4 separate regions of the Homo sapiens genome follow, and all the other regions are linked to region 4. Evidence: fine-mapped expression QTL. A gene starts in region 4. Each other region holds a variant in brackets. All regions are shown on one strand. Distances are from middle to middle.

Region 1 (8,511 bases), 170 kb after region 4:
ATCTAAGATTTAAAGCTATATTTCAGTGCAAACTAAATCGAAGTACGTAAGAGTCAGGAGTGTTGGTTCAGAAAGAAAGCAAAGAAAGAATTATGGACTTCATATGCGCAAATTACATTATAGCTGCATAACGTCATTTGATAAGCTACCAGTGAGCTTTTTGCACAGGCTATCATGTTCAGAGATTCTAGATTAAAAAACCTGATTTTTTAAATTTTTAATTTTTAAAAAGTTTTGGAGTACCTACACAAAGTGTACAATTAATTCCAACTTTATAATAAAGAAAAAGAGATTTTATCATCTATTTCCACTGCTTGTCCATGGTAACCAACAATAATTACAAACTTCTAAGAATTGTTCCACGAACATCTATCCCTCCTCTGCTTGAATGAAGCAAGAAACTTTTAATCAACTGGACTGCTACAGTTCTGTGAGATTTCTGTGTATTTGGGTCCCTTAGGCTAACTAAACTAGTAGCTAAGATAGAGAGCAAAGGTGTAACCAAAGAAACTCAATTCTTCTCATCTTAACATCATTCTAATCACTTTAGCAACAGGCACCTTGTTAGTTAGGCAATACTGATTGAGTGCTAGAGATATAGAAATGGACAACTAGACATGGTCCCAGACCTGGCCCTACAGTCTAATGGAGAAGGCAAGTATCAGATAAATTATTACAAATACTTAAACAGGTACCAGTGTGTGAGTGCCATGGAGAACAGAGCATGGAAGCACACATGGGTTGCATGAAAGATGAGCAGAGGTAGTGAATGGAGGAGTTGGCAAGGAAGCCACATGTATCACACCTGAGGGAGGGACAGAACATGCTGTCCTCCAAACAGGAAAAAGCATGGAACTAAGGGAAGGAGATTAAAAATAGCAAATATCAATAGAACCTTCCATGTACCAGGCATCTTCATAACACCCAGAAAATGGAGCCAGCTAATGAAGTGCCTCATAGGAAAGGTTACGGATTTTGGTCTCATCTAATAAATAAGTATGAAAATTTTAAAAATTATAAATAAGACCCGACACCAAGCATCTGTACCACTAAACTGTTCTTGTTTCCTTTTTCTTCATCCAAAATCCATTTACCTGCTCTTCTAACTATTCTCCAATTTCTGATATCCATCCATTTACTTAAGCAACTTAATACAGAAATAATTCAGACCTGGAAATTAAAAAAACAAAAATCATAGCTTCAACTCTGCAACTCAAGCAAGTCATTTAAATCCCTCAATTTCTTTGAGCTTCAATGTCTCAATCTCTCAAATGGAGATACAGGCTCTATTATCTCATGGTTGTAAAGAATAAACAAGATTACAGAAGACACTGATTTGAAGAGAACTATTAACTCACAGACACTAAGAAAGAGATTTGCCTTTTGGCCTCTGCGCCCCATCTCCTCCATGCGGTCCCCACCCAGCCCAGCAGCTGAAGCATCAACTTATCCAGTCAAACTTGGCAAGCAGGCTCTCGGCCAGACCTTGGAAATATAAAAATAAAGATTGCCCTTGCTCTCAAGGATGTTGCAGTGTAGCACAGTAAAAACATGATTCTAATAAAGCAAAGAGGATCATATGGACTATGTACTGGGTTCCAAGAGCAAAAGAGAGGCATTCACCTCAGACTGCAGGGCAGGGGTGAGGCACAGGGCAAGATGTCAAAGAAAGCTTCCTGGAGGTGACACATGAGCTCAGTACTGAATGATGAATAAACATTAGCTGGGCAAAGTAGAGGATGGAAAGAAAGTATTCTAAGCAAAAGGAACACCATGTACAAAAGGGCAGCTATGAGAAAATTTTCATGCAGGAAAAAAAATACTGAGCACCTACACTGAAGTAGGCACTGTGCTAGATGGTGGTAACAAATCTGACAGGTCTCTCTGCTCTCATGAAATATAGGGAGGATTCAAGTTCATCAACCTACAAGTGCTTGTATAATTAGAACAGAAGAGGGCAATTAGAACAGAAGAGGGCGCTTGCATGCACCAAGGCCAGTGAGACAGCACTCCAAAATCATGGAAGTTTACAATCATGGAAAGTCCCCTAGTTCATGCTAGCAGGGCTAGATTTATCCTGATAGATTCAATGTCCACTGGAAAACCTGCAGCAGGAGGGTGACATGATCAGATGAAGCCCAAGCGCTGTAGACAGGGACATCAACTGCAAGAGTCCAGTAACAACATTACGAGAAATTAGAGGACCTGTAATAGGCAGTGGAGTAAGACCAAGGGACTGGCACAGAAAATTTAGTCAACAGATCCTGGAGACTGTGGGGAACAAAGAAGAAAATTTAAGGATTCATTCTTGAGCAATCTTGTGGACAGTAGTGTTATTTTCAGTGGGATCACTCAAAATGAGAAACAGATTTGGGGAGAGGATGAAGACTAAAGTTTTGCAATATTGATTTTGAAATACTTATGGGATTCCAAGTGCAAAATGCTAACAATAGCTACCATTTGTCAGTATTATATTAAGTGCCGGATATTATGTTAAACTATATGTATTACGTATTCATCATTCGATCTTCAGCATAATGCCTGCTGTGAGTAAAATATTACAATGAAGCTTTCAATAACCTGATCTGCTGCAATAACACAAACTTGGATACAACTCAACTGGCAAGGTGTGGTTGCTCCCATCCTCTGCTCAATCCTTATTTCATTATCCTTGCAGTGAAGCAATCCTGAATTTTCTGTAATCAAATCCTGGGGACCTTGAGATATACCCTTAGAAGGATAGTACTGTATTACCATGTTACTGATGAGGAAACAGGGGCTCAGAGAGGGTAGAAAATTTGTTCAAAGTCACACAATAGAGGAGTGAAGTTTAAGCCCAGATCTGGGTAACTACAAAATCCAGGTTTTTAATCTCTGCTACACTACCTCTCTGAAGACTAGGGTGGTGACTGAAGATATGGTGGTCACTAACACTTTCATGGGAGTGGATGAATGTATTCAAGGAAAGGAACAAAGTAAAAGAGCTGAGGAAGGAGCCCCCACACTAACACGTATTTAGGGAGTGAAGTGAGGAACAGAGGTTCACAAATAATTCTGAGAAGCAGGCAAAATCAGTGAATGCCAAGAAGGAATGGTATCATCATGGCTGAGGGCTTCAAAGAGGAATACCAAGCTTCTGGGAGATCAGGTAAAAGAAACAGAAAAATCCACTGAGCTGAGTAACAGAAAAATCATTAACTAGTGACGTCAGCCAGACTATTTTAGTGGAATGACAGTGGAAGCAAAAGTCTGTTTGGAGTGATAATAAATAAGGAGGAAGTACAGACAATAAGACAACTCTTTCCGGAAGCTGGACTATGATAGAATACAAGAAAGAAAATCAAGGTGGAGGTCTGTTTTGTTTTTCCTGAAATGAAATATAGTGAAACATATTTAACTGCTAATAAAAGGGGCAGTAGAAGTAAACACTAAAAATACAAGCAGTAGCTCAATATTTAGCTAAGGATTTTAAATGTAATACAAGGAAAAGGTACAATTATTAAATAATGTGACAAATTTTGTTTGAGCTACAGAATTAGAGGAAAAGTTTCCATATCAGAAAAAACATATGATGTTTCCATTTTATGCAGTAGTACTTCCAAGACTGGCCAATCAGTGTTTACTGATCACTCATAAACAGAATTCCATAGTGCTCTGTGTCAGCAAAGCAATGGAGTAATCATTATGTAGAGCAAAAAATATCAAATGTAGTTACATGTCTGTGATGCTCCCTACCATATATGAAGGGGGCTCCATAAACATAATACTCCGCCTTTCTTCTCCTGTACTCACTAATTCCCCCAATAGGCCCCATACCACCAGAAAGCAAGATGACTTACATGATTGGTAAGTTGAGAAAAAGCATCTGCACATGCTCAGCAGGACTCAAAGGGACAGATGTTTAGTAGGGGCAGGACCTCTGGAAGGAAGTCTGTGGCTTTCCAGGGCTACCTGTGACTAGACTGGTGAGCTAATCCATTTCACTCTGGGAGTCAATAGAAATCCAATGCCTGCCACAGCTATAATCTCCAATATCACAATAATCAGTGACAGAGGTGGCTTCTGACATCCATCTGCTCAATCCCTCTGCTATGTCTTCACTATGTCTTCACTGACTCACAACTCAGGAAAGGAAAGCAAGGTGTCACTTACTGGTTCCCCGTAAGGCCCTATATCATCATGCTCTCAAAACATTAAAACCATTAATGGCAATAAAGTTATATCAAAAACTAATTTTTGTCTGGAACACACAGATAAAAATAAGTGGGAAGATACCCATATGACTGGTTTAAAAAAGTTTAAAGGCTAGTGATATGGTTTGGCTGTGTCCCCACCCAAATCTCATCTTGACTTGTAACTCCCATAATTCCCATGTGTTGTGGGAAGGACCCGGTGGGAGATAATTGAATCATAGGGGTGGTGTTCTCGTGGTAGCGAATACTGTTCTCATGGTACTGACTAAGTCTCAAGAGCTGATAGTTTTATAAGGGAAAACCCCCTTCTCTTGGCTTTCCTTCTCTTTTTGCCTGCCGCCAAGTAAGATGTGGCTTTAGCCTTCTGCCATGATTCTAAGGTCTCCCCAGCCATGTGGAACTGTGAGTCCATTAAACTTCTTTTTATTTACAAATTACCCAGTCTCAAGTATGTTTTTATCAGCAGCATGAAAACAGACTAATACAGCTAGTTATGAGGGTTA[T/C]TAAATAATCATGAAAATAGTAGCCTAACTCTTAAATCTAGATAAAGAAAAGTGACCATCAAGACAATTTCTGGGAGTGCTAACCCACACATGATGTGTGATTAACAGAAACACTAGATGAACATCTAGTGTCACAATGCCAAGAAAACTAACCAAGACCAGAGACAAAACACAGTGTTTCATTATGACACCAAAATAACAACTTGAATCCATAGTAGAGAAAATGAAGACATATAAAAGTGGGAAAATGCAACTTTGAAAGATGTCAAGTTTTCTATATTAATTTATACATTTAACTCATCCCTAAAAATATAACAGGTTTGCCCCATCCACCCAGGGCTAGAGAAGCAAGTTGTAGCCACACTCTGTGCCACAAGATATTTGGAAAATGCTGAGCAAAAACAGAATGCTCTGCTGACCTTCTACCCTTCTCACCTGATTTGGCCCTGAATAACTTTTGGCCGATTTCCAAATCCACATCCACCTTAGAAAGGATCTGCCACCAACAAAAATATTTTCTTTAAAAGAAAGTAATAAACCACACAGTAAAATACCGTAACAATCAGAAAGAACTGTTAACAGCTCCATGCAACAATCTGGATGAATCTCACCAGCATCACAGCAAATAAAAGCCAGACGCAGAATATATGCCACATGGCTCCTTCTATACAAAGCATGATTAACTAGCAAAGTGAATCTATGCTGTTAAAGCCAGTGTCATGGCTACCCTGGAATGGTCAGACTGAAAAAGGCAAGAGAGGGGCTTTTGGGGCTGGTAATCTTCTGTGTAATCTTCTGGTAATCTTCTGCGTTCTGATCTAGGTTTACATGGGTATGTTCAGATGGTAAAATTTCACTAAGCCTACATTTATGATATGTGCACTGTTCTATATGCATCTTATATTTCAACACAAAATTTTAACAAAAATATAATACAACATTAAAAAAAAAGGAGTTCCAAATCGTTAGAGCAAAGATTGGCAGGCTTATAGGAATCCAGGCTTAGACTTTCAAAAAGGTTGTTTTGAAGATGACAATTACAATTAAATGAGTAACTCAGACGTTTGAAAAGTCAGTCTCACAGCTACCAACTCATAGATGCAAATCCCTGATGGGAAACAACATTTGCCTACTCATTTTCTTTTACTCTCACTTTAACTCCAACCTAACTTGCCTCTCCCATTCCAACTCATTTCACTTATATTTTAATGAATAAAGGTGTACAATGATTAGCAACTTTCCCTAAGCCATTATCCTGGACAAGAAAAAAGTACATTCCATAAAAGACACATCACAGAGTATGCTTGACAATGTGAACAGCAGGACAAACCCAGAACTTTTCAGGACAACATCTCACTTAGAAAAAGCTCAGGTAACAGTTTCACAAGGAAAAGGATGCTTGCAGAAGTTGAAAGGTAGTATTAAAATTAGAACCATGTTGACTGTTTTCCCAAAATTACTGTCTTTTCCTAAAAGGACACCTATCAGACACCCATCACTTTAAGACCCCCGCAAGACCCTTTTCCTGCCCCTGTTACAGAGTTAATTGGATTTGTCCACACTTCCCAGAAGCTGATCAAGCCTAATGCAAACCCAGCATCATAACTACATAAAACCATGGAGGGGCAGTGGTGTCAGAAATAGAGCAAGGACAGGGCAAGTGGAAGACCTGACCTCTCGGCACTTGGCTGGTGGTCTTGATCTTAACCTTTCTCTCTCCTCTTCTGTGAAATTTAATAATCACTGTCATTACCAAACAAGCTACAAGTTATGCTGGGAGGCTCAAATGAAAAAAGAAATGGGAAAGCACTGGAAAACTGTAAAGCACCATGCAGGTATAAGATGTTGACTACACCATCACACCATGACAGGAGAGATTTTTACACTTATCACCTCTGGATTCTTTTAGACAGCATCTCTTAGATGCCATTCTGGCAACTGAAATATCTTAAAACACAAAAAGTTTATTAGCTTGAGCCATAAGAAATTGTTGATTTATAGGTCTAAAATGAATAACAGAAAACTTTTAAAAAACTTGTATTTTTATATAGAAGTTTATTTAAAAGAATACTAAACTATAATACCTCGGGTTTGGGCAGCTTCCTTTAAAGCAGCCACAAGGTGAGGTTTCAAGTTATCCAAAATAAATCTTCCTTCAAGACTTGGGAAAAGGGACCTGAAAAGGGAAAGGAACAGCAATCATCATAATCTTCCCACAATTCCAAGATTTTAAAAAAACAATCACATATTTTCAAGTCAGTTAAGCCGACTATTTTATTTTACATAAATTATAATGCACACATCAAATCAAATTACAATATTTTTGATCAAATATTATCTAGACTTTGCTTTAAAACGTGAAGGCATCATGTACTTTACTCAAATTCAGAAATATTCTCAACATCTTACAGTAAAATTAATTTTATTTCCTGAAATGTCAGTACACTCTCGTTTATAAAGAATTACTTAATATACTATTTTTCATGAATTTAAATATTATCAAAATAATTCATTAGTGACTAATCTGGCCTTGTTATTATTTGCACTTTATAAACATTGTTTTCAGTGTTCTGCTATTGAAATTTCCAAGAAAAACAGCTGCTTAGATAACTTTTCAACTGATAAACATTTGAATACTTTTTCATTTTAGAATATAAAATGTATCCTTTGGTATTTTAACAATGTATTTCTGCAAAAGTCTTCCTAACTATAAAATCGACATAGAAAACCATTGAATTTCACAACAAAGGACTCTCACAGTGAGCAGGAGCAGGGGAACCCTAAGAGTGAACAGGAATGTTAGAAGGGGGACCCCTACCTTGGATATTCTGCTGAGGTAATATAAATGACATCTTGGTCTGATACAGATGAGGAGAAGGGGACAAAATTGCCATTTTGTAAAGGGAGCAGCTCCAGCCCAAGCAGCTCACTGTAGGCTTGGTCAGAAAGCACAAATTCTAGAAGGTGAAGCTTTTCTTCAGCACAGCCCAGGTGTGCACACTTCCGCAGCACCTGCCGCACCCACGCGGGCGTCACCTTCCTCACAGGTGTTGTGCCAGAGGCAGCTGTGAGCTGAACAGCAGCATCCACATTCCCTGGTACCTTGGCAATCTGCTTCCCTGAGCTCTGGAGGTAGTTGAGCACAGTTTTTGTGTATTCTAAATTTTCATCAAGTTCTGAGAAGTACACCTGCTCCAACCTGACCCAGTCACAGCTAATTGAATAAATCACTGCATTCTGCAACAGCTCGCTGAATAGAGGCTCTAACACCGGTTGCCAGTGCACCTTGACTTTGCTCGCCTCCGGCCAAAGCTTATAGATAACATCAACTGACAAGGGGAAATCAGAGCTCTTTTCCATCTCCAGACGTTTTATTGAATCTAAGATCAGAGTAGCATAAGCTTTGGGGACAACATTCATGACAAGAAACTCATTCCATAAGGCTGCCGGGTCTCTCCACTGGTCCAGCTCTCTCCATTTTATGCTCCTGCGGTTATCAGTAAGGCCAAAGAACCCACTGATGTGAACTGGGAGGCCTGTGCTGCTTTCCTCACCAGGTGGTAAAGGAAGGAAACAAAATGCTTTTCCTGAGAAATCAGACGTTGCTCCTTTTGCTTCATCATCTCTGCTTGATAAAGGCATGGCTATTCCAATGATTGGGACAAATTTCAGTTCATCAGCTAAAGAGTCAAGCTTACTACTGATCCCTCGCCCACCCACACTGTTACACACCAACCAAGATGTTTTCTGTGCATCCTTAGTACTCTCCTCTTCTAAAACAATATTTACGTGATATGTTACACAGGTGATGTTAT
Region 2 (8,076 bases), 21 kb before region 4:
GAGGATCACGAAGTCAGATCGAGACCATCCTGGCTAACTTGGTGAAACCCCGTCTCTATTAAAAAATACAAAAAATTAGCCGGGTGTGGTAGCAGGTGCCTGTAGTCCCAGCTACTCGGCTGAGGCAGGAGAGTGGTGTGAACCCGGGAGGCGGAGCTTGCAGTGAGCCGAGAATACGCCACTGCACTCCAGCCTGGACTGAATGAGGCTCCATCAAAAAAAGAAAACAGAAATCACAGAATAAAACCAAATATTTATAACAAACTATTATTCAACAAAGCATACAAAAACATAAATTGGGGACGGCATACCATATTCAATAAATGGTGTTGGGAAAACTGGATAGCCACATGTGGAAGAATGAAACTGGATCTCTTTCACCAACTACAAAAATCAACTCAAGGTGGATCAAAGACTTAAATCTAAGACCTGAAACCATTACAATTCTAGAAGAAAACTCAGGAAAAAACTCTTCTGGACATGGCTCTAGGGAAAGAATTTATGACTAATACCCTAAAAGCAAATGCAGCAAAACCAAAAATAAATACATGGGCCTAATTAAAGTAAAAAGGTTCTGCACCACAAAAGAAATAATCATCAGAGTAAACACACAACCCACAAAGTGGGAGAAAATATTTGCAAATTATGCAACTGACAAAGGATATTAGTCCAGAATCTATGAGGAACTGAAACTAATCAAAAAGGAAAAAAAAGGCCAGGTGCGGTGGCTCACGCCTGTAATCCCAGCACTTTGGGAGGCCGAGGCAGGCAGATCACGAGGTCAGGAGATCGAGATCATCCCGGCTAACACGGTGAAACCCCGTCTCTACTAAAAATACAAAAAATTAGCTGGGGGCGGTGGCGGGCGCCTGTAGTCCCAGCTACTCGTGAGGCTGAGGCTGGAGAATGGCGTGAACCCGGGAGGCGGAGCTTGCAGTGAGCCGAAATAGCGCCACTGCACTCCAGCCTGGGCGAAAGAGCGAGAATGCCGTCTAAAAAAAAAAAAAAAAAAACCCATGTAAAAGTGGGAAAATGACATGAATAGACATTTCTCAAAAGAAAAATGTACAAATGGCCAAAAACACGAAAAAATGCTCAACATCACTAATCATCAGGGAATTGCAAATTACAACCACAATGAAATACCACCTTACCACAGCCAGCGTAGGTATTATTAAAACTCAAAAAGCAACAGATGTTGGTGTGGATGTAGTGAAAAGGGAACGCTTATACACTGCTGGTGGGAATGTAAATTATTGTAACCTCTTTGGAAAACAGTATGGTGATTTCTCAAAGAACTAAAAGTAGATCTACCATTCAATCCAGCAATCCCATTACTAGGTATCTACTCCAAAGGAAAAGAAGTCACCATATCAAAGAGACACTTGCACGCATATGCTTATTGCAGCACAATTCACAATTGCAAAGATATGGAACTAACATAAGTACCCATCAACTGATGAGTGGATAAAGAAAATGTGGTACATATATGCCATGGAATACTACTCATCCACAAAAAAGAATAAAATGTCTTTTGCAGCAACTTGGATGGAGCTGGAGGCCATTATTTTAAGTGAAATCACTCAGGAATGAAAAAGCAAATACCGTATATTCTCACTCATAAGTGGGAGCTAAGCTATGGGTGCACAAAGGCATGCAGAGTGGTAGAATGGACATTGGAGACTCAGAAGCCAGAAAATGGGCAAGGGATAAAAAACTACATATTGTGTACAATGTATACGGCTCGGTGATGGGTGCACTAAAACCTCTGACTTCACCACTCTACAATTCATCCACATAACTATTGAAATTTAAAAATTACATCATCAGAGGCTGCGGCAGGAGAATGGCGTGAACCCAGGAGGCAGAGCTTGCAGTGAGCCAAGATCGCGCCACTGCACTCCAGCCTGGGCGACAGAGTGAGACTCCGTCTCAAAAAAAAAAAAAAAAAAAAACAATTACATCATCAGAATTTTAAAAAATAAAGTTCATTACAGCTAAAAATAAATTTCAAAATAAAATAAAAATAGTTCGATCAGGTAGAGTTGTTTCATCGGGGAGAGGATCTACAGAGAGATCTGCATGTCACCATTCCAGTGCTTTTCTTTGATTTTTTTTTTTTCCCCTGAGATGGAGTCTCCCTCCATTGCGCAGGCTGAAGTGCAGTTGCACCATCTCGCCTCACTGCAACTTCCACCTCCCGGGTTCAAGCGATTCTCCTGCCTCAGCCTCCTTGCTTTTCTTATTTATATGTACTTTCATATATCCTTTTAAAATTTATCTTTCTGTTTTACAATATAAACAATATATTGGCATTCACAGAAAATATACAATAAATTCATAAACGCATATAACTTATAAATAAACATACATGTATTGAGTTGCTCAAAATTCTTATTACTGGTAAGATGTTCGGTCCAGTCTGGAGATGGTATCCCTTGCCCACACCCCTGGTTGTTTTCATACACCACTTCGGATATATTTAGCTTTTTATCACGGGACTCATAAGTTCTCTAGATCCCCACTGCGATCGTCATCACCAGCACAAACTGTTGCTAATAATTTATTTCTAAGCCAACAAAGGAGAAGTTCTGGCTCTGAGATCAGATTAGTTTTGGCAATTAAAACACATTAATAACTTTTGAATTCTTTGGCAGAAATATTAAACTGCAGCCTTTACTGATTAGTACGGACATTTTTAGAGTAATAATTCACAATATCTGTCATTTGCTGCCTGTGAAATATGTAGGAAATTATTAATATACCCTTAATAATATATCTCTATATCCATCTTGTTTATCCTTTGCTCCTTGAGGGGGATATTTTTAGAAAATGATTATCACTGTCTATCAACTATAAGAGAGAGAAGTAATTAGAGAAGTATTGCACTGGACACTTCTGGAAAATTGGCTTTTCTCGTTTCAATTTCTACCTTTGCAAAAGTTTGCTTTTAAAAAGTGTAATCTAGAAGTTGTAAACATTTCTGCCTTGCAGTTATCCATTCTGTTACATTAAAAACATTTTAAAACGGTCCAACATCTTTATGTTTCTACTTGGTCCCAAATATGGTACCAGATTTTTACTGTAAAAAATCATAAAATACACCAGCATGATCCTTTCGGGAATATATTTGAAAGTTTACCTCCTTAGCACACTCACCAAACATCTTCAGATACCCATACCATTCACACAAAGCTGGTAAAACCAAGATGCTCCCCCGTGATGCATGTGTACGGAGAATGTCAACGAATAAATAAGTGAGTTAAATACACAAGCACTAATTAGAAAACTGTATTGAGAGGTGAGCCCAGCTGGACTTCCTGGGTGAAGTGGGGACTTGAGGAACTTTCCTCTCTTACAAGAGGATTGTAAAACACACCAATCAGCCCTCTGTAAAACACACCAAGCAGCGCTCTGTAAAACACACCAATTGGCGCTCTGTAAAACGCATCAATCAGTAGGATTCTAAAAGTAGCCAATCATGGGGAGGATTGAAAAAAGGGCACTCTGGTAGGACAGAAAAGCAACATGGGGGCGGGGCAGGGGAGGGAGAGACAATAAGGGAATAAAAGTTGCCCCCCATGCTGGCTGGAGTCTCCTTTCACAGTGTGAAACGTTTGTTGTTTTGGTCTTCACAATAAACCTTGGTACCGCCAACTCTTTGGTCCGTGCCATCTAAAAGCGCTGTGACACTCACCGCGAAGGTCCCGGCTTTATTCCTGAGACCACGAACCCACCGGCAGGAACCAACTCCAGACTACTATGTGCTACAGAGAACTTCTTCAGGCCTTGAAAATAGAACATAGTAAAAAGCGGCTTCTTTGTCCATGGATCAGCAGTCACTATTTCCCAGCTCGCCTCCAAGAGCTAACTAAAGTGCAGCATAAACTGCATGCAGCATTGTTTTCACCACAGCAAACCCTTCGGGGTGCCTCCTAGCGGCGGATGGAGAACTAGCATTGCGCGAGAGTGAGTAAACTGTGATAAACCCAAGGGGTTTGCGGGGGACAGGCTGGGTGGCAAGACTTTTAAAGGCTCGCAAATGGAACCACTCCCTCCAGAGGGACTATCTAAATCTCCTCAGGTGCTGACCCTTTCTGACAGTAAAGGACGAGGGCCAGAAGTGTAAAGATTGTGGTCCCGCGCTCCAAGCCCAAGATGCGTTCAGCAGGAGTAGTTGGGTTGGAAAGAAGGCACCCAGCGTCTGCAGCGAAGGACTCGCGTGGGAGCGAGAAATGTCCCTGCCCAGTGCCCCGCGCGCTGGATCGCGGGGGCGAGTCTGAGGGTGGAGAGGCCGCCGGGTGGAGGCGCGCAGGGGTGCGTGGGTGGGTGCGGAAGGAGTGCAGGGTATGGAGGGGAATCTTGGGGCGGCGCGAAGGAGGAGCGCTTGGAAAGGCGCGGTGTTTGGTCACAGAGGGGCTCGGAGTGGGAGTGCAGGGGTGCGGGGAGGGAGTGCAGGGACGCGGGGAGGGAGTGGAGGGGTGGGGACGTGCTGGAGGGGCGCGCCTCGATAGAACTGGAGAAACTGGAAAAGTGGAGGGGCGGGGCAGTGGCTGGAGGAACCTCTGAAGCGACGCGGGGAATATGTGAAGGAGTGCTATGTTGGAACTTGGAGGGGAGGGGGGATGCTGGAGAGGCACACGGTGATGGACATGGAAGGACCCGGGAGGTGTGGAGTGGTGGGCCCGGCCCGTCGCGGGAAGGACACAGAGGGACATAGGCTGCCCTGGAGAGGCGCTTTCGGACATCTGGAGGGGCGCATAGTGCTGGGACTTGGCGGCGCCTGGGGCGGAGGGGCGCGCCGGATCCAGCCGGGCGCGCTCGGGGGCCGGGCGCAGTGGGAGTTGACGGGCGTCCAGCCGGCGGCGCCCTGGGCTCGGCTAGGCGCAGGACGGCCCTGGCAGCGGTGCAGCAGCCCAGGCTAGTTCCTGGGGGGTCCCTGGTCCCCGCCTCCCCGCGCGCCCCGGCCAGCACCGCCCGGAGTCCGGGCGGGGAAGTGGGCGCCCGCGGCTTGGGAAGCTGCTCCCCCGCCCTGGAGCAGAGTCGTCGCTGCGGTCGCTGAGGAAGGACGGAGCAGAGGCCCGCGCTGTCTGGGGAGAAGACTGTGGTGTCATCCCGTCGGGAATGAAGGGAAATGCAGCGGCTGTTTGCGCCCCGGGACTCCAAGAAGTACAGCAGGTAAAGAGAATAGCCACGGCCCGCCACTTCGCCTTCAGTTCCCCCAATTCCTGGGTCCCTTCCTTCTCCTCCAACCTCCTAAACTAACCCCTCTGTTGTTAGACGTCCCTATGCCGGTTCCAGCCTTCCTCCTAGGACTCCATCACCACCCGTGCCCTCTTTCTCCTCGCCTTCTCTGCCCCAGACAGCACTTTCCTTCCCCTGCCCC[C/G]TTGTGGGGGCTCAGGGACAAGAGTAAAATGTAATTTAGACAGTTGGCTTTTCTTTGCCCAAAGACTTCACTAACTGATCCTCATTCTGCAATGAGACTTAATAACTTCCTGTGTGCGTGTGTGTGGTGTGAGAGAATCAGAGTGAATTGGTTCTCTGCAAATGATTTTGCCAAAAACTTTGCCCTGGGTTGCTTGCTGGGGAGTCTGTAACACTGAGTAAGCGGAGTGTCTGCACCAAGTGCAAAGTTGCGTAGGGGTTACTTGGGGGTTTTAGAGGGGAACTGAAGCGCAGCAGCGGGGCTCTGTCGTCTTCAATGGGATTACATAATAACTTGATGATCCTCACCACCCTTATACTCATTACCTCCATTAAGTACCACTAATTAATATTTACATATTTGCATGCTGTCACTTGGTTACATCAGCGTTAGCAAGTTGCTTGTTCTTACATCATTACCGAGTATTCTGATGTTTCTGAATGTTAGCACGGCACCAGCCAGTTGATCTGTGAAACATCTACTCATCCAGTGATAATATTGTACAGGCGGATTTTGTAATGCTGGCGCTCCATGTATATCCGTACTATTCATGTACTAATACTCCTGGCTGTTCCTTAACACAGGTAAATTGGTGCTAATAAAGCAATGGAATCGTATTTACATTTTTCAATGTAATATGGGTCTTCCCATGCTTTTCTTCCTTTGATATGAACAGACTGTAAAGAAGCTGTAAAGAAGAGATTGCACAATTCTATTCCAAAAGTACACATAAGCTAAAATCTTCGTTTTTGTTGACGTAATCTTTTGCTAACAGGTTCAGTGTCTCTGGTATTAAAACTTCCTTTCATGACAATATGCTTCCAAATTGACTAGCAAGCAGGCATCCATCCACATGTGTTAAAATATCTTACAGTAAACTTTTAAAGTTATACAGCAGTTATATCTTCAAATATTGTACTTAAGTCCTCTGTTCTTTTCATCTTTAATGTTTTTGCTGAATCAGACAGACACAATATTTAGTGGATGTTACACGTAAATAATTAACGTGTATGATACACTTAACACCGTGGCCTCACATGTGCCACGACTGTACTCTGTCAATCTTTCTTAAATCTCAGAAAAAAGGTAGTGATAAATAGCTCATTTAATAAATTCAAATGATCAGAGCTACATAGCCTAGCTAGTCTACATAACAGACTATAAAATCAATAAACTTTCACGTTGTACAAATAATTTATTTACATTTTAAAACTACTAAAACACCTCTCAGAGATAACCAGGATAATAATACTCCATTTTAAAAGTAACATTTTATAAATTGTGGGTTGGTAATATTTAAGATCATTTTTATTTAAATATGTATACACATATATACACACACTATTACATTTTAATCAGCATCATTATGTTATCTTAGGAATGGTTTTTTATTATTTGTCAGACTCTCACTTGATGTTTACTGCTTAAGACTGTATCCTGGGCGGGCGCGGTGGCTCACGCCTGTAATCCCAGACCTTTGGGAGGCCGAGGTGGGCGGATCACGAGGTCAGGAGATGGAGACCATCCTGGCTCCTGGCTAACACGGTGAAACCCCGTGTCTACTAAAAATATTTTTTTAAAAATTAGCCGGGCGTGGTGGCAGGCGCCTGTAGTCCCAGCTACTCCGGAGGCTGAGGCAGAAGAATGGCGTGAACCCGGGAGGCGGAGCTTGCAGTGAGCCGAGATCAGGCCCCTGCACTCCAGCCTGGGCAACAGAGCACGACTCCGTCTCTTAAAAACGAGCCTGGGCATCATGGTGAAACCCGATCTCTGCTAAAAATACAAAAATTATCTGGGTGTGGTGGCACACGCCTGTAGTCCCAGCTTCTCGGGAGGCTGAGGCAGGAGAATCACTTGAACCTGGGTGGCGAAGTTGCAGTGAGCTGAGGTCGCACCAATGCACTCCAGCCTGGGCGATAGAGTAAGACTCCGTCTCAAAAATAAATAAATAAATAATAAATAAATAAATAATTTAAAAAATAAGACTGTGTCCTACAAGAGACCTTATTGTACTGTGGGTAAAATACATAAATGTCTAGGGACATGGTTATAGTTAACTAAAAAAGATAAAGATAATTTTATTTCTTATTCTAAAATTGTAGGAAAATGATTTATATGGACATGATAATAGTGGTACAATAATTCATACTTAAGTGATGGTACCTTGTATTTTTTGAATGCCAATTTTCGTAGGTTTTCTGTAGTTAAATGTGAAGTAAAAAAATTGGTTGTGTGTTGACAGTGGTAACAATACAATGTTTTCTATACAGGGATCCCTGGTTAAAGTAAACTAGCATATACATTTCTAAACATGACATCTTCAAAATTAGGAAATAAAATTAACTACCTTAGCAACATGCATTTTGACATTTCATTTTGTTACATATGAGGGAAATATTTATGCCGGAATAGGAAACAGCAGGTAAAGTAAGAAAAGGGTAAAATGATACTTTCCAAGGTAATTTAAGGTCCTGGGGCCCTTTGAGAATCTGGTAATAGTTACAGATCTGCTGTCTAGAAAAATGTCTGGACCTAATACCTAATTTGGACTCAATTTCAATTAGGTTAATACCTAATTCAGACTTGGTTTGAAGAGGGGACCCAGTTCTGGACCCCTGAGTGGGATCACCTAAATTAAATCCCAGCATGGA
Region 3 (5,000 bases), 120 kb after region 4:
TTGAGTGTTAAAACCAAGGCAATTGAAAAAAATAACAAAACTGCAAGGAAATGCTCGAGGAGTGTGGTGAGGATGGGAGGTGGGAACTAACATTCACTGAATGCTTTTGACTGCCAGGAACTGTGCTCAGTGCTGTCACAGAATTTGTTTCATTTAATTATGAAGTGATTGGCAATTTTATCCCCATTTTATAAAGGCAGAAACTCAGATCTAGATAGTTCCATGTTGTAAGTCACAAAACTAAAAAGGTAGCCACTCATAATCGAATCCAGCTTTGACTCCAGAGCCCATGTACATCCAGTTTGCTGTCTCCACCACCCAGCGGATCCTTGAGAGATTGATTCTTTGATTTACACTGAGATGCCTCTGACTGATTATATGATGGTCATATCTTCTTCTTCTGCAACTTCTTGCCATCAACTATGTTCCACTTTTTATTTCTGGTTCCAGCAGCATTACTATTCCTGGCCTGATTACAGTAAAAAGATTCTGGAATATCTTAGTTGGCATATATATATATATATATATATATATATATATATATATATATATATATATTTTTTTTTTTTTTTTAGTCGGAGTCTCACTCTGTCCCCAGGCTGGGGTGCAGTGGCGCGATCTCGGCTCACTGCAAGCTCCACCTCCCAGGTTCACACCATTCTCCTGCCTCAGCCTCCTGAGTAGCTGAGATGACAGGTGCCTGCCACCATGCCTGGCTAATTTTTTGTATTTTTAGCAGAGATGGGGTTTCACTGTGTTAGCCAGGATGGTCTTGACCTCCTGACCTCGTGATCTGCCCGCCTCGGCCTCCCAAAGTGCTGGGATTACAGGCGTTAGCCACCGTGCCCGGCCTTAGATTTACATTTCTTATGGCAAAATCATTTGCAAGGAAAGTATGAACGCTGACAAACTACCTTAAAGCAACCTTGCATTCACACATGATGTAATTCATTCTTTTTTAAAAAGTCAGCAAAAGTGTATTAAAGTGTTTATGTGCCAGATATAAAAGGCATGGTCGTTGACCTCAATGAGTTTACAGTCTATTGAGAAAAGAAACTTGCAAACAAGTTAGAAAAGTATATTTAACTGCTATGATAAAAGTACAACTTCTATTGGAGGCATAGGCAAATAAATATAAAATCTTCCCAGGGTAATCTGGGATGATACCCCAGAAAAGGGAGGAGTTGAATTCTGTGTAACACCATAAGGATGTGATGTCAATTAAGTAAGTTATTATTTCCACGTCTGTTCATCTACTTATCTAAGGAAGATACACATATACTACTGTGTGGATGGAAACATTTGCACCTGTTGCAAGCACTTGCAAATACGAAAGTTTACCTAGTAAGTGTTTATAAATACTAAGCTCAGTTAGAAACCAAGAAAGGGTAATTCCCAGGTCCCAACAATAAAGAGGCAGCTCATGGTCAGAGTAGAGGAAGAGTTAAGCTAAGCTACTCATAGAGAAATCAGGATACATAGAGACTAGCTGCTGAGACATTAATGCTGATGTGGGAGTGAGATTCCAAGTGATTGTTCAGTGTGCATGAAACACCCTGGCTGAGAAACCTCCGAAATCCTGACCTCCCATGAATCAGGTATTTCACACAATATGCCCATCAGCCCAACGATGTCACAAGAAAGATTGCTATTTTAGGCCATGGGTTGAAAAATTACCCACAAGAAATCATGACCTGCAAGCCGTTGCCTGGCCGAGGTAGAAGCAAACGCATACTACTTCACGGTATAGGAACTCCGAGGTGGCAAATTAACAGTAAAAACTGCACCAAAGTCTGTGAAACTCATAGAACCATTTAAAAACAGAGAGAAACGACATTGAAGAAGTTATCCCATCACACATGACATAAAGACACTTAAGGAAAACAATACCTGCTAATGACTAGTTTACTAAAAAAAAAAAAAAAAAAAAAA[A/G]GGGCCGGGCGCGGTGGCTCACGCCTGTAATCCCAGCACTTTGGGAGGCCGAGGCGGGCAGATCATGAGGTCAGGAGATCAAGACCATCCTGGCTAACACGGTGAAACCCCATCTCTACGAAAAATACAAAAGAATTAGCCGGGTGTGGTGGCAGGCACCTGTAGTTCCAGCTACTCAGGAGGCTGAGGCAGGAGAATGGCGTGAACCCAGGAGGCAGAGCTTGCAGTGAGCCGAGACCACGCCACTGCACTCCAGCCTGGGCGACAGAGCGAGACTCCATCTCAAAAAAAAGGAATTGAACTACCATGGAGAAGAATTAGAATTAGCAGCTGCTACAAATAATCTCCTGGAACTGTTATGTCATAGAGCAAAGCAAAGAGATTTTTAGAACAAGTATAAATAAAATGCTCAAATGAGGAAAAAAATGAATAGAAATGAGGGAAAAAATGAATAGAAATGTAAGACAAAGACAAGATATTTTGAAAAATGGCAGATTTGGGAAATAACAAAATAGAAATTATAGAAATGAGACATGAAGTAATTAAAATAAAATCACTGGCCCCCAGAACTTTGTTTCTCATACCATTCTCCAAGGAACCGGGACTTCTTAGAGAAGTGGCTGATCCCAGGGCTGGGCCAGGGAATGGTGAAGATGGGGCTTGGAGCAGCCTAAAGTTCAGGGAAATGCTAACCAAAAGAAAGTAGGCATCGCGATATTAATAGCAGACAGAATCAAAATTAGGAAAGAAATAGCATTAATAAGAATCAATGGGGTCCGGCGCGGTGGCTCACGCCTGTAATCCCAGCACTTTGGAAGGCCGAGGCGGGTGGATTACCTGAGGTCGGGAGTTTGAGACCAGCCTGGCCAACATGGAGAAACCCTGTCTCTACTAAAAATAGAAAAATTAGCCAGGCATACATAGTGGTGCACACTTGTAATCCCAGCTACTTGGGAGGCTGAGGTAGAAGAATTCGCTTGAACCCGGGAGGCAGAGGTTGCAGTGAGCTGAAATCACACCACTGCACTCCAGCCTGGGCAACAGAGCAAGACTCCATCTCAAAAAAAAAAAGAAAAGAAAAAAAATCAATGGGAACACTACTTGATGATAAAAGGAAATATTTACCAAGTCAGTTTAGCAATGATGACCTTTTATGGTTTAAATAACATAAATCATTTTGAAATAAAATTATTTTCATTACTTTTTAAAACGTACGGATGGAATCTAAGAAGCATGGATATTTGATGCCCACCATCAAAGAACTGAAAAACATACAAACAAGCTCTTCTTATGGAGTCAGAAAAGTTTTCTTTTTGTCCTTGACCTAATACTTACAGTTCACTTACCCAAAATTTTTTCCCAATATACACTACTTAGTGATTGACAGTATTTCATTGATCACTCTATCCTATTTCTCCACAAGAAATATATTTATATAATTATATATATAATTACTTCTAGTGACTATAGAATTTTTAAAATTTCTTTTGGATAGAGTCATAATTTAAGGAGAAAACAATTGATCAAAACAGTATAGCTGTAGTCACCCTACAGTGCTATAGCACACTAGAACTTATTCTTCCTATGTAAGTTGTAATTTTGTATCTATTAGCCAGCCCCTCCCTATCCTCTCCTCCTCCCATTATTGTATATTTTCAAATAACTAAAGGAGAGAATTTCAGATGTTCCCAACATAAAGAAATCATAAATGCTTGAAGTGATAAATATGCCAATTACTCTGATTTGATTATTACATATTGTGTATATGTATCAAAATATCACTCTGTACTCCATAAATATGTTCATTTATTACATATCAATTAAAAATAATTTTTAAAAGAAAAAATCAATATATTAAGATTTTTGATAGTAACAAAAAGTAAAATTGTATAAAACTACATCTTTTAGTGAATGGTTGGAACTTTTTAAAAACTATTTGATAGATCTGCTAATAAATATAGCTTATTAATAGAAGGAGTCAAGATCAGGCATCAATATCTTTCCTGTTTTTTAAGTAGATGTCCCAAGGAGCCTGTTCACATAAGTAAGTAGGTATGAATCAAAAAGTTTTATTTTTTAAAAAGTCACTCTACGTTCTGAACTCTTCCCTAAATATACACCATTAAAAGTTATTTGTAATGACTATCGGCGACAATTCATTAGGTCTTTCTTCAATTTTTGTTGAAAGTAAAGAATTAGAAACTGTGTAACTTGCCAAATGATTACCTCGTAATCACTGTAGTCATTCAATTTGTCAATTCTGTCACCAATTTTTTAATTTTCCCTTGCACATTACCCCTGGAAGTATTTCTACCCCAGTGTAATACATCATAATCGATTCAGAATCAATGAGCATGTCTTTCTTTATAAAGTGGGAGAAGGAGATTGTTAAAAAGGATCTGGGAAGGGGAACCCCTGCAAGCTCCCAGCCTGGCAGTTCAGGGCAACAGTCCTCTTCTGCCCCTGATGAAGTAACTGGGACTGGATGCACCATCTCTGGTAACCAGGAGAACACTTGACAAATATATGAAACAACCACTTTCAGACACTGGATAGCACGAAGTGCAAAACAAGACAGAAACTAATGAGGTGAGCCCTACACTTGCCCGAGCTCTCTGCCCACAGGCATGTTCAGAATCAGGGCACAGGGAAGGGGAATCCAGTCAGTGCACGGGAACCTCTGGGAGTGGAGGAGAAAGAGATCCGAGAGTGGGGAGTTGAGGCTAATGGAGTCTGTGGGGCACAGGATCAGAGAAGAGGGCATATGCCAGGAAAGAGCTCCGGAAATCACATACAAGTTCCCAGGTATGCACGTATCAGAGGTTTTTCAACTGCTCCCCTATATATGGGCACCTGATTTATTTACAATGTGCTTGTGCAGGTAAATTTTCATATTGTTGGAGATATAGCTCCATGATAAATTCCTGGAAGAGGAATCCATGGGTGAAAAAGATAAATGCACATATTGTTTACTCAGATAATGCCAAATTCCCCTTTCGGTGACTTTCCCCTCCATTGAGGTATACCAATTTGCACACTAGCATTGTTACAATAAATTCTATTTTCCT
Region 4 (5,000 bases):
TGTGTCAGGTCAAGAACTTGGTCCTGCACCTGGAGGCTTGATGAAGGGCTTTAGGCCAAGGAGTGATATGGACAGAATTACCTGTTCTCATCATTCCTCTGGCAGTCCCTAGGTGTGTAGGATGGGGGCTGGCAGTTCCCGGAAGCAGAGGAAGTAGGTACTTGGCTATAGCAATAGGTGATGCCAGAGAAGGTGAATCTCCAAGTCAGGCAGGAGCAAGGAGGGAAGGCAAGCAGAGCAGGAGGTTCTGCAGAGGGAATCCACTGAAGTTAGTGACTGGTAGACTGGTGAGTGAGGGAGAGCCCTAAGTCTGTCTTCTGTGACATTCTGGGGGATGGCATCGTCAACCGAGGAAGGAAAGATGGACAAAAGAGCAGTGGGTGTTGTATTGGAGGAATTGTGGGGAGACAATGCGTGTTGTATTGGAGGAAAGGCTGAGCAGTTTTGAGGGATTTAGTCACAGTAATCCATGACTGCAGTTAGCTTATAACGTCATGAGAACTATTAAAATGAGACTACTATCCATATATTTATAACTTCATTTGGGCCTTGGACATGGCCTAATATGTTTCACTAGTCAATTGACAACCCAAATCATTAAAATACTCCGTTATTTTCAAATGTTGAACTTTCTCATTCCCCTATTTCCACATTCTCTCTCTACAGATAACCTCACCTCTTACTTCATCTCAAAATAGAAATGATTTCTCCAAAACTGACGACATCACTACTGAAATTCCTTGTTTTCACTGGTTCTGAAAGTGATCCCCCGAACCCAACCACTTAAGCCAGAAACAGGGTTATCAATGCCCAAACTGAAGGAAGAGCTTGATGAGATGGTGTCAGGAAGAAAGGTCAGCGCTAACTGATGACTGCAGTAGTCAAAAATGGAAGCAGAGGGAGAATGAGGGGGAAGCCAGAAAGGTCCCCATAGGTTCGTAGGACCATGGTTGGAGCACGTTTACAGTGGAGCACCCAAGCACCAAATTAGGCCTAAGGACTTTCAAAGTCACTTCTACCCATAGGCTTACTAGCTTTGTAATCTGGAACAAATTATTTTACACCTAAATGACTGTTAGACTAGATTTCTTTAAGGTCTCTTGGAGCTTTAAAGTATTATGATTCCTTTGAGAACATTTCAAAATGTGTGTGTGTGAGTTACAAACTTAAGCTGCCTACATTACAAACTGAAGGTCTTGCTTTAATAATTTCAACTAACTGATAAAATCAAAGGCTTCTTTATGTGATTCTTCTGCCCTACTAAACATAGGTGTGGATAGTATTAAATGAATCTGTAAATATGAGTGGGGATCAAACACATCACCTGACTAACATTTTTACAAAGCAGTTCCCAAAACACTGAAAAGTTCATTGCAACAAAACCAATTTACGATTGATGAAGAGGTATCTCAATTGTAACCTTTACATGCATGACATTTCAATCAGAATATTGAGTTAGCAGTTTCAGACTTTGACTTTTCAGACATACACTCATACAAAAATACATTTCATATCATTATTGTTTAATATATTATTTTTGTTTAAAATTGATAGTTGTCCTATAATTTTATGTCTAGCTGAATTCCCAAAGTAGAAGTACTAATGTGCAGAGAATTCATGAAAGGTTTTAAAATGTCTTACAAATGTAAGATTATTTGAAGCTGTATCAGCTTGTAATTTAAGGCCTGCAGCTGCTGGTATGATAGAAGTATCAAATTTCAAAAGAAATTATGGTAGAGTATAAATAAGCAGAATGAAGAGAAAAGTCTCCTGAGAAGAAAATAAAATGAGAATGAAGCATATGCATTGTTATTGCATTGCTCCTTTTTTTCTTCATTTTTTATTTCAGGTTCGAGGGGTACATGTGCAGGTTTGTTACACAGATAAATTGCATATCACCAGGATTTGATGTACAAATAATTTCATCGCCCAGGTAGTAAGCCCAGTACCCGATAGACAGTTTTCCGAACCCCACCTTTCTCCCTCCCTCCTTCCTCAAGCAGGCCCCAGTATCTGATTGTTCCCATCTCTGTGTGCATGTATACTAAGGCACTGCTTCTTATATTCAAGGTTTAGTACTAAAATGCAAATATGAAGTATATAATTTAGTAAGTTTTAATCCTGCTGCAAACCAGGTCACATAAAAATAATGCAAAATAAAATATTAAAATTATTCAGAAGTTCGATATTTATTCTGTTGTCTTTACACCTTATAAAATGGAATGACCTAATTACTCTTAAATAAACATAAAGACAATTTAAGGTCACATTTGTTACATTCACATAATTTGTTAAACACAATAGAAATGTTAGTTTACTAGAAAAGAACTGTCATAATTTTAACATGCAGAGTTTGTTTACCTTCTATTATGGTGATCTTTGTTTAAGATTTTCTCCTCAGATGTTAAAAGTTTTTCACTTAAAGAGGCTTAGGGAAAGTGATTTTTAAAGAGTCACTGTTACATGGTAATATGCCGTTCATTTGGATGAGACTAGTATATAGGTAATAGTCACAAGTTCTAACTTGCATGTTAATTTGAAGAGATTTTTCGTAAAATTTTATCAACATTAGTTTCTAATGGAAACCAGTCTTAGAAGTTTTCTGCTGTTTGTTTGAGGTAAAGTTTTTTTAAGAAAGTTATAATTACATTAAACTATCATGCTTTAGGGTTTAAATGTTGGAAAGTTGGTTTTGTAAGAAGAAGAGTTTGGTTTCTTGTTTGTTTGTTTGTTTTGGTTTGTTTTTGGCATGCGAAGAGCTGTGTCCTGGAATTGGTGCCCAAAAAATTTTAAGTGTGGTATGAACTGTTTATGTCACTGAGTAAAATTAGACACGTCTGTTGCTAATGTGAGGGGATGAAACATGAGACAGGGCGAAACTCGTGAGAGCCCTTTCTCCAGGGACAGTTGCTGAAGCTTCATCCTTTGCTCTCATTCTGTAAGTCATAGAAAAGTTTGAAACATTCTGTCTGTGGTAGAGCTCGGGCCAGCTGTAGTTCATTCGCCAGTGTGCTTTTCTTAATATCTAAGGTAAGTGCTCAGTTTTAACTTAGATTTTATATCAGTACAAAGTACTACCTAAAAACCAAACGCTTAAGAGGTTTCTTAATATTCTTTCTTCTTTGGTGGCATAATAATAAATTTAAAATAATGTTGAATAAATTGGTGTATCACAACATAATGACATATCAAGTATCAATGAAATTCTCATTTCAACTAAGTTATTCTGACTACAAATATGCTACATATTTTTAGCATAATCCTATATTTCTAACATTTTTAATTTGTAGAATGCCAAAGGTAGCATTTCTGTATTATTGGGCATTGAATTGGATCCTGTAGTTAATTTAAACAAAGTATTATCTTTAAGATCACCTACTTCTAATTCTGCTCTTAAACTTTAGTGGTAGAATTACATTTGCTTTAGATTTTCTTGATAGTTTTGTTATAGACACTAAGAAATAAACTAAAATGAATGACAACAAAAGTCCAGTGGTTTTATAAGTTGGAAATAAACAAAACAAGAGCAAAATAGCAACCTGACTCCTTCACTATTTTTGGAGTGAAAAGGGAAGAATGTTTCTTTCCCTAAATCTGGAAAATATAAAATACTGCTCAAAATATGTATGAAAAAATAAACATAAGTGGGGTAAAAGTACACATGTGCTAATGCTTCAGCTTACTGAAGTTATGAGTTCTTTCTTTGCGTTTTCTAAATTAATACATGACAACTAGCAAACACAATTTTTTTAAAGGAAGGATTAGAAAAAAATAATACGGAAAAATATAACTCAGCTGACTGAAAGATTTGCCAGCAGACCAGTACAAAAACGAACTACGGAATACACCGTTTGTTTTTTGCTTATTTTCTTGCAAACATTTTGTAGGTACAAAAAGGCACCTTTGTGGAATTTAAAAAGTAATGCTACAAGTTGGGGTTCGTTTTATAGGTTCTAGGATTCATTTCAGATTGTCTTTCAAAGACAAATGAAAAGTAGCATTTCAATGTAGTTAGATATAGCATTCCAAAGACTAACAAATTCAGGTGTCCAAAAGATATCAGCTAAGCTTGCAGTTAAAATGCGGAAAATGAAATTGTTCCATATTGTCCTTTAAAAAATGTACTTGCTAGTCATTAAACTAAGTTGTTATTAAATTGCATTAAAAATTAAATGATAGTTGTAAATTATAGTGGGTTCCCAATGTGTTCAGTTTTGCATAACTTATAGGGCCTGAGGATCTCCCTCCACTCCCTAATCTGTGGCTCATCACAGCGCTTGTGTCTTCTCAGCTTGAGGCACCAGGGCTGTGGTTTCCCAGTGGGAGGGGAGAAACTACAGCGTCCTGAGGATGACTCTGCTACTCTCCTGCTCCTTCAGAACCCACCTTGACCTTCATGACACCTTCCTGTCTCTCCCTCCCTCCCTCCCCTTCTCTCAGCCTCTATAGCACCTGTCTGGCTTTATTCTTCTCCAGACCTACTGCAGGGCCAGATAGTTCTACGACGTTCTCATGAGGATTGCAGGATCCATCACTTGCTACTTTGGCCATTTTGGATTCCAGCTTCATTTTTAATTTTATATGTTATGCTGTAGATAGTTTTATGGGAACACTGGTACAGGAGTATTTAGTAATTTGTGAATGGTAAAGGTCTCAAGACTTTTCTCAGAACCTGTGAAAATCTCACTGCCTGCTCGACTTCAGTATGACTGGTGGGTAGGACCACTGAGGAATGGGGACAGGAGGGCTTGCTGTGCCCAAAGGCGTTTGTGCTTCATCCTAAGCACCAGTGAGACCTTTGAACCTCTAGAAAAGGAGAGCAGCCCAGTCACATGGGTGCTTTGGAAGGATCACTGCAGTTGACATGGAGAATGGATTAAGGGCAGTGGAGGCGGCAGTGAAGAGTACCTTAAAACCTAGCTTCACCTTCGTGACTTCTTTAACTCTGTTTTTAAAATGCTCAATTAATTTTACTTGAGAAACATCTCTGGAAAGTCTAA

Which allele goes with the higher level. Positions count from the first base shown, and alleles are read on the strand shown. Sizes are in standard deviations (SD) of each study's normalised expression.
For the expression in esophagus mucosa of the gene that starts at base 2,934 in region 4, T is the low allele of the variant in region 1 and C is the other (small effect, 0.21 SD a copy in GTEx).
As copies of C replace G in region 2, the expression in lung of the gene that starts at base 2,934 in region 4 goes down (small effect, 0.28 SD a copy in GTEx).
For the expression in subcutaneous fat of the gene that starts at base 2,934 in region 4, G is the high allele of the variant in region 3 and A is the other (moderate effect, 0.60 SD a copy in TwinsUK).

Evidence for each region.
Region 1: its variant is fine-mapped to the expression of SGCG in esophagus mucosa (GTEx, PIP 0.97).
Region 2: its variant is fine-mapped to the expression of SGCG in lung (GTEx, PIP 0.98).
Region 3: its variant is fine-mapped to the expression of SGCG in subcutaneous fat (TwinsUK, PIP 0.95).

What each region holds. Positions count from the first base shown.
Region 1 is chr13:23,347,005-23,355,515 of GRCh38, forward strand. SACS (sacsin molecular chaperone) reads right to left here. Exons shown (of 10, transcript NM_014363.6): 8 at 7,515-8,511; 9 at 6,781-6,872. Among named protein-coding and RNA genes, the nearest start is that of SACS-AS1, 68 kb to the right of the region's middle. The variant T/C (reference allele first, on the strand shown) is at 4,697.
Region 2 is chr13:23,155,469-23,163,544 of GRCh38, forward strand. LOC124903134 (a long non-coding RNA gene) reads right to left here and starts at 4,208. Exons shown (of 2, transcript XR_007063719.1): 1 at 3,698-4,208. It also overlaps a transcript of SGCG not described here. The variant C/G (reference allele first, on the strand shown) is at 5,387.
Region 3 is chr13:23,298,900-23,303,899 of GRCh38, forward strand. The region is part of intron 6 of SGCG (sarcoglycan gamma); the gene reads left to right. Among named protein-coding and RNA genes, the nearest start is that of SACS-AS1, 120 kb to the right of the region's middle. The variant A/G (reference allele first, on the strand shown) is at 1,933.
Region 4 is chr13:23,178,046-23,183,045 of GRCh38, forward strand. SGCG (sarcoglycan gamma) reads left to right here and starts at 2,934. Exons shown (of 8, transcript NM_000231.3): 1 at 2,934-3,030.